Linked DNA regions of Homo sapiens. The protein of the gene in region 2 interacts with the protein of the main gene of each other region in a pairwise test. Each region holds a gene or a part of one and is shown on either strand. Other genes may lie near its edges. The genes, in order: GAD2 and FAM114A2.

Region 1 (4,399 bases), on a different chromosome or scaffold from region 2:
GTGAAAACATCCCTCCCACTCAATGATTAATAGGGTGGTGAGTCCTGTTTCTGATCAGTTTTATGCCAAAGAAAATACCAGCACAGCACTGGTATTCGGGCTTTTGTTTGGATCACGCATTTTTCGAGCTTTTATTTCCATATTCTCTTTCTCCACTTTGAGTTCTTTCTGCTGGTCTCTGCTGATGAATATTTGCTTCTATACCAGTGGTATAACCTCCGTGTCCAAATACATGCAACGTAAAATCTGATGATTTACACTTAAATCATGTTTCTGACATTATCAACTTCAGAAGCATGAACAATAGCAGTGGAAGGTGCTTTGGATTAGAATCATTCTAATAATGACTATTTTTTACATGATGAAAATAACTTTGCAATTTTGAAAATATCAGTAACTCCATCAAACAAAACATTTTATAGAAAAAAATAAAATAAAAATTGTAAACGAAAAAAGAGCTTTATTATTTTCGATGAGACAATACCTGTTTTAATTGCATATTTTAGAGTTGTTTGGCAATGCATCAAAATTTCCTCCAAATTTTGTGGTTGGTCTGCCAATTCCCAATTATATTCTTGGAGAAGCTCATTAGGATAATGGAAATCAATCACTTTGGTTGATCTATCGAAACTTTTCACCACATACTGAAGTAAAATGTTCATAACATCTTGCAGAAACGCCAAAGTGGGCCTTTCTCCATCACACGCCGGCAGCAGGTCTAAAGAATGAAATTAAAATGCCACATTTTAATTTTACTTTGAAAATATTCAAGGCAAGATCTTGATGAGGCAATAACATTTCTTTGAATTGAGAGATTTCATGTTAGATAAAGCTTTTGGAAAGGCAGAACATTTTTCTTTAAAAGGGAGACATTTTTCAAAGGTGAAGGGAATGAATGAGATAAATTATGATTTCTTCTCTTCCCCAAATTAATTACTGCATTTCAATTCATAACTTATATTGTTTGCCTTCTTTTTTTGAAGAGCGTGTACCTCCGTTTATCTAGTTCACAGGAGTTCGTCTTAAACGTGTTTCTCAGTAAACCATCTTACATGTTTACATAAATATTTCACGTCAGAAGTGTTTGTCTCGAATGCCTTCGGGCAAACCAAAGTGGAACAGGTGCATTAGGATCTCTGGTCTGATAGGAAGGCCCGCTGTTTCTAAAGTCAGTGTGTGTGTGTGTGTGTGTGTGTGTGTGTGTGTGTGAGAGAGAGAGAGAGAGCGTATGCATGTGTGTCTGCATGTGTGTGTGCGCGCGTACATTTGGGAGACGGTGTGTAAGTGCACGGGGGTAAAACTCGGCGCGCGGGTTTCATGTGAATGGAATCGTTCTCTTGTGCAATTGCAGCTACAAATCACTCTCGTGATCTAAAGACCTAAAAAAAATGCAATTCTGAATTCTCGGGCACGGTATTTGGAAACTGAGTCCCACCCGAGGCCCCAGCGGCCTAGGGAAGCCAGCCGTCATCGATTCAGTGAGCGCACGAGCGCCTGGATCGTCGGCCACCCGCCATCCCAAGGGCCGCGCTGGGGGAAGAGCGCCACGGCCTCAGAGCCCTCTTGGAGCTCCGAGGCCAGGTTCGGGGGCTTGGACCCAGCGGGCAGGTCCCGCATTTCTCGCTTTTATCTGAAGATTCTGGCAGGTCCCGCCTCCGCTGCCACCTCGACGCCCCTGTCCGGCTCTCAGCGCCGGACCCGCACCGGCCGCGGTGGGCGGGGCAGAGAGAGGGGCAGGGGCGCCCCGGGGCTCCCCGCTGAGTCTTTACCTGTTGCATGGAGAAACGCGTAGTTGACATCCACTTTGGAGCAGCTGCAGGGCTTCTGGTCGCAGGCGCAGGCGGCCTTCCGGGCGGCGGCCCGCGGGGGTTGGCTCCCGCCGCTCTCCGCCGGCTTCTCGGCGTCTCCGTAGAGCAGGGCTGGGTAAGGACACCGAACGCGGGCCTCGTCAATCCTCCGCCGGGCCCGGCTCCCTCGCTCCCGCCTACCCGCAGCCAGGAAACCCCGACTCCGCTGACTGGGATGCGGAGGTGAGAAGACTGCTTGGACCCCGCGGGCCGACCTTGGCCGCCCCGGTCCCTGGGCACTCACCGCACAGTTTGTTTCCGATGCCGCCCGTGAACTTCTGAGCCACTTGGCACCAGGCTCGCGCTGCAAGGAAGAATAGGCAGGCAGACAGCGAGGCAGAAAGAGAACAACAGACGGACGTGTGAAATTTCGTTCTATGTGAAAATCAATCAGTCCGGGGTCCTAGGAGGGGCCGCCTTCCTCCTGGGGGCCGCTCAGGACTCGGTGAGGCCGGCAGGTGCAGAAGGCAAGCGGGAGGCTGGCGGCCCGGGCCAGCCCTCATTTCCTTTATCTGTTTCCCGAGGAGAAGCCCACACCGCTGCCCTTCCAGGTGCCAATCGGCTCAGGCAAATTCCTCTCCCTGCCTACCTTGGACGAGTTTTCCTAAACACTGAAGCTATCCATTTTTTCGCAGACTGTCTTTCTAGATAAAGAAATCTCTCACCTTTCCCATTTTTTTTTTCTATCTTCACGGTCACTCCGTCCCACCCCAGGGTCCAGACACCCGGATCTTAGCAGCGCCCCAGGACCACGGAATTCCATGTCCCCGAGACACCGCGGTCTTTGGGGGGCTCTTCCAACCTTCTGTGGAACGGGCCTGAGACTATTTGGGCGTCTTCCCAGGGTACAAGAGGCTGTAGAGGTCTTGAGCTCTTGGGCCGTCAAGGACTTAGCCCAAAAGCAGGGAGAAGCGCCCGAAGAAGTTTCCTGTTGCAGGTGGAAAAACCTCCTTCGTCTTCTCCGTAGTTCCGCAAACCCCAGACCACCGCAAAACTCGCCCGCCGCAGGCCCCCGTTCTCCTTCCTACCTGTGCCGGGATTCTCGGAATCCCCAGAGCCATCTTCCGACCCGAAAGACCAAAAGCCAGAGCCCGGAGATGCCATCGGCTTTGGAGACTGGAGCAGGTCGCCTGCGAGTGCGAGCTGCGGGCGAGCTGCCTCGGGCTTGGCCCTGCGCGCGCGTGCGTGCCCGTGTGGCGGGAGGAGGGCACCGCGCGGGGACCGGCGGGGCCGAGCGGCGAGGGCGGGTGTCACGCAGGAACAGAAAACGTGCGTGTCTGTGCGTGTGTGTATGCGAGCTGGAGACAGGGTTTAGGGACGTGGCAACCCTTTGGAAGCCGGGGAGCTTTAAAAGAGACCGGGACTACCTAAGGGTCCTCGGAGCCCGGACTCAGGAAAGCGCGGAGAGCCCCAGAGCATTTGAGGGAAAGGGAGCCCAGTGGGGATGAATGAGGGGGCGGCGGAGGAAAAAAACACGAGAGAGGGAGGGAGCTGAGTCGTGAGGATGCGAGGCAGACCATGCACGCCAGCTGGAGTCAGAGTGAGGGGGTGGGAGGCGTGCCAGCGCGTCCTCGGGCGAGCCAGAGGCGGGAAGTGCGGGCGGCCGCTGTCCCGGGTGCTGCCACAGCCGCTGCGCGCCAGCGTCAGCGAGGGGCAGACTGGGGAGACCTCGGCGAGGCGGGAAGCGTGGCCCAGAGGAGTTTTCTGTGTGCATCGATTGGGGTTTTGTTTGAGGTCTGGCTCCAGCTGAGGGGAAGGAAGCGGGGTTCCCGCGCCGTTTTCCTCCAAGCAGGTGCTGAGGTCACTGCGACCTCGAGAGCTCGCGCCCCGGGCGGGCATCAGGCGCCGTTCACGAGCCTGGGGAGGGGACGGCGGGGGAAGGGCTCCTACCCGCTGATGGGCTCATTTCAGCGCCTTGGTAGAACCTGACGCCTGCCTGCTGAACCGCGCCGTACCCGGGGGCGCACCGTTCCTGCGTAGCCAAGGGCTAGATCGCGGGACCCACCGTCCAGGCTCTGAGTGACGGCTGGGGAGAATGACTGCTGATTGAGGCAATTAAAATCCACGCTGGAGTCTACTGAGGACCTCGGGCTGGGGAAAAAAAAATAAAACGAATGGAAACTTCTTGGAAGAGAATGAGGCAGAGCGGCCAGAGTCGGCAGGATTGATGGCGGGTGGGGGATGGAATCAGGGCATTTGGTGACCTTGGCCCGCGGAGGCGTGGAAGCGCCCGCTGCTTGCGTGTAAGGGGGATCTGTGTGCGCCTGGGAGGGGAGAACAGGGTTTCCAACTAAGCAATCTCGGCTTTACAAATCCGAGTAGGAAAGAAGGCATCGCCTGCAGGGCCCTCGTTTTAAGGGGCTTCAAACCAATGCCCCCCCTCGCCCCCAGAGAATCTTCGCGGTAGCGGGTGACCCGGAAGCGCGAGATTGGTTCTCTCTGAGGCGTATTAGGAGGCGGTTTCTCTTTTTCTAATAAAGAAAGGAGGAGAAAGTCAGAATCGTTCTGATGATTTCCTTTCTACAAAAAGCTATTGCAGACAGGGAGGACGC
Region 2 (3,812 bases):
GAAGTTAGATACTATATATGATTCCACTTATGTAAAGCTGAAATGCAGGCAAAATTAACCTATGATGGTGGAAGTCAGGATTATGGTTATCTTGGTGCAGGAGAGGGGGAGAGCAGAAGACACAGAAAACTGGGAGAGGACACAAGATGGTGGGGAGATCTGATTACGGTAATACTGTTTCTTACTCTGGGTGTTTCACACTGAAAATTCAAACAACACTTGTTACATTCTTCTGTATGTATATTTCAATAAAAAGTTAAAATTTAAAAAAAACTAGCTATCTATCCTCATGTAGCAAAGATATTTAGCTTCCTAGATAATCCTCTTACAAATGTTTTTAATCATACATAGTTTTGCAAATATCTGTCATAAAGATCACATTTCCCCTTTGCCTAAAAGATGCAACTATGAGAAAAATATTTTTGTAAAGTAGACATTTTTTAGGGCCACCAAATTAAGAATTCCTAATCCATAAAATAATACGTATATTGCCTCTCTGTAACTCCTACTCCCTTATTTATTGCTACTCCTTTATTTCCTACTTTCTTCCTTATTGCTTTAATGAAAGTTTTCAAGTAGCATTCACTCCACCCATAAGACCAAAGTGACCGATCTTCAGTGGCTTGGACTCCTTTAAAAGTAATCAGTCCACATGGCTGTTCAAAGAAAAGAGAGAGAAAGATATGCAAACCCATTATAATAATGGAAAGGAACAGACCACCTTGCACTTTTTTACTTACTGTGCTCTGAACAGCAGTAGAGATGGTAGAGAATACACCAAATGCCCCAGCCACTGGGGAGGAGTTTTCATTCTCTTTGGCATTTGTCTCTCCTACAAGAGGGAGGGGATGTGTAAACATGAAGGGAAGGTCCCTTAACTCTCAGGCTTTATTAGCATCTATGTGAATTTTTTAAAACTAGACCCTGCTTACTACATACTAGGCCTTAGCCCTTTTTATCATTTTAAACCATTTGCTTATTTTAAAATGAAAGCTAAGATAGGCAGTTTTCATTTTCTTTTCATTTCGAAAATAAAATCCAGTTTTGTAAACAAACTGCTGATATATACAACAGCCTATATGTTGTATGATTCCAATTATATAATCTTCTGGACAAGGTCAAACTGTAAGGTCAGAAAACAGATCAGTAATTGCTAAGAACTGAGAGTAAGGAGAACAGTGACTACAAAAGGACGTGAGAGAACCTTTTTGGGGTAATAAAAATTTTCTTATGTCTCAATTATCAATACAGATATAGGAAACATTCTATATATCTGTATTGATCATTCTATATAGAATGTTTTCTATATCTGTATAATCACAGTGTACTATGATTACACAGTATAAACAGAAGTATATATACTGATCAAAACATGTAAAACTGTACACCTAAAAAGAATAAATTTTACTGTGTGTAAATTATAATTTGATAAACCTGATTTTTAAAAATCCAGTCTATTTTAAATTTTATCCTAGAAAATTATGATTAGTAGAAATCAAACAGACATACATTACAAAGATAGGTATGTTTCAAAACAAAAATCCATTAACTTAAAAATTTCACATAGGAGAACAACCATTATACCAAATAATTTCAGTATTATCAAATATTATAGAGAGGACTTCCACTTCTAGCATGATGGATTAACTGGTATTAGATATGACCTCCTGCCACAACAACTGAAAAACTGGACAATATATAAGAAGCAACTGTCTTCAGACATAGGACAATAGGCAGTACAAGACTTCGGTTCACACAAGAAGAACAACAAAGTAAACCTTACAATTGGCTTGGCTTTCTGTATAGAGGAGCTTTCCAGGCCATGACAGAGGGAGGAGAAACCCAAGTAGGGCATGGCAATCAGTTTGAGTGGAAGAAACGGAGACTGGAATCTGGGAATGCTGAAGCAATCGGAATTTGCAGGTCAGAAAACCGTAGAGGAGGAAGCTACATAGCTAAAAAGTTCTAAGAATCCGCATAGGCATGCCCTAAGACACCTTTAGGTGTTTTTGCTTAAATACTGCACTGCTGAGGCACTGGGAGGCTCCATAAGTCTGTACAAAGAACTACCATGGAGCTCTAAGCTAAGCAATCCCCAGAGCTCACGCTAGGCTGAGAGACATTTGACCTCCAACCACAAAAGCAGAGACTTTATATTAAACACCTGGGAATTAAGGTGGAGACTTCGGAAGAGTCAAGCCTTAGCAGCAGAGATAAACAGTACTTAGTTAGAGTAAAGGCCACTATAGACTCACCCTAAACAAGCTTTACAAAAAGTCTTGGCCAGACACAGCAGCTTATACCTGTAATCCCAGCACTTTGGGAGGCCGAGGCAAGAGGATCACTTGAGGTCAGGAGTTTGAGACCAGCCTGGCCAACACAGCAAAACCTCACCTCTATTAAAAGTACAAAAATTAGCCAGGCATGGTGGCCCATGCTTGCAATCCCAGCTATTTGGGAGGCTGAGGCAGGAGAAGAACTTGAACCCAAGAGGCAGAGGCTGCAGTGAGCTGAGATCGCACCACTGTACTTCAGCCTGGGCGACAGAGTGAGACTCCCTCTCCAAAAAAAAAAAAAAAAGCCTTAAAGCATCAATTTAAGTTGCAAATACCTTAACTGCCCGCCGACAAAAGGAAAGCAGAAGATAGCCCCCTTTAAAGGAAGAAAACAAAATCCCTAATAGATGATCAATGATTTCCATCAATGGCCTATGCTTATCTCAAAATTCTGAAAATATACATGTTGACTACAAGACACATCCTTGGCAGAGGAATTAACCTCCTTCCTCAGGAACTTTAGAAGATAGAAGGGGTTTAGTATCAAAAGGCAGTCCATTGTAATTTTGGAAAGTTCTCCCTGTTAAACTCTTTATTAAACTAAAACTTAACTCTATATAACTTCCACTGAGTGGTACTAGTTACTAGTTCTCCCCATAAACCATGAATAATAAACCTAATCCTCTTCTCCATGCTAGTCTTCAGAAAAAGACCAGGATATTCTCCCAATCTCCCTTCTCCAGATTACCAGATTCAATCTCTTATAAGACTTTCTCTTGTAAGACTTTAATTCTAGACATTTCACTATTGTGAAAGAAAATAAAACTCAGGACCCCAAATTTACTATGCCAAAGGGAACAGTTAAGCTGAAAGCTAAGTTACACAAAAACTGTCTTTCCTTTTGTTCCTAAGCAGAAAGGCCAGACAGAAGGCCAGATGTTTCCACAGGTAGCTACTCTACGTTTACTTTATTTCATGTAAACTGCCAATTTACTGAGCATAAGACAAATACATAATTGACTCTACCTCTGCTCTTTCCTTTTACACGTAAAATGTGGATTCAGTGAACACTGATCAAAGATTCAAAAGAAGGCAACCACTTGCCCCTCTTATCTACCCTCCCCTTTCTTTACTTCCTCTTTCCCCTAGAGCCCACTCTTCTTCCTTTAAATATTGAAGTCACCAGACCCTCTTCAAAAAAAGTATGGAAGGTAGATTGTTTCTGTGGTTTGTGTTCCTTTTTCCCAGGTGCATCCTCAAACTTAGCAAAATAAACCTCTAACTTGATTGAGACCTGTCTCAGACACTTTTTGATTCACACTATCTAGCTGACTCTTTTCTGGATTCACCCAGTTTTTCAAAGCCCTTCTTAAAACATGGCCCTCTGTGGTAGATATCTTTCAGTGTCATGAAGATGCTGCTGTTAACATATTCAAAGCCACTTCTAACCCCCTTTTTCCTTGGCTGCTAAACCCATATCCTGATCTTGAGGTTTCTGATAATGCCCAAAACGCACTCTCTCAGCATCTCTTGCTG

The links.
Region 1: the proteins of FAM114A2 (region 2) and GAD2 interact in binary tests that used the Homo sapiens proteins (3 or more experiments, as listed by UniProt).

The regions. Positions count from the first base shown.
Region 1 is NC_000010.11:26,215,362-26,219,760, reverse strand, and holds the start of GAD2 (glutamate decarboxylase 2), read right to left. Parts: upstream 2,988-4,399; 5' UTR 2,952-2,987; coding exon 2,876-2,951; intron 2,152-2,875; coding exon 2,092-2,151; intron 1,920-2,091; coding exon 1,770-1,919; intron 719-1,769; coding exon 485-718; intron 1-484. UniProt on the Homo sapiens protein: Catalyzes the production of GABA.
Region 2 is NC_000005.10:154,028,749-154,032,560, forward strand, and holds part of FAM114A2 (protein FAM114A2), read right to left. Parts: intron 833-3,812; coding exon 741-832; intron 1-740.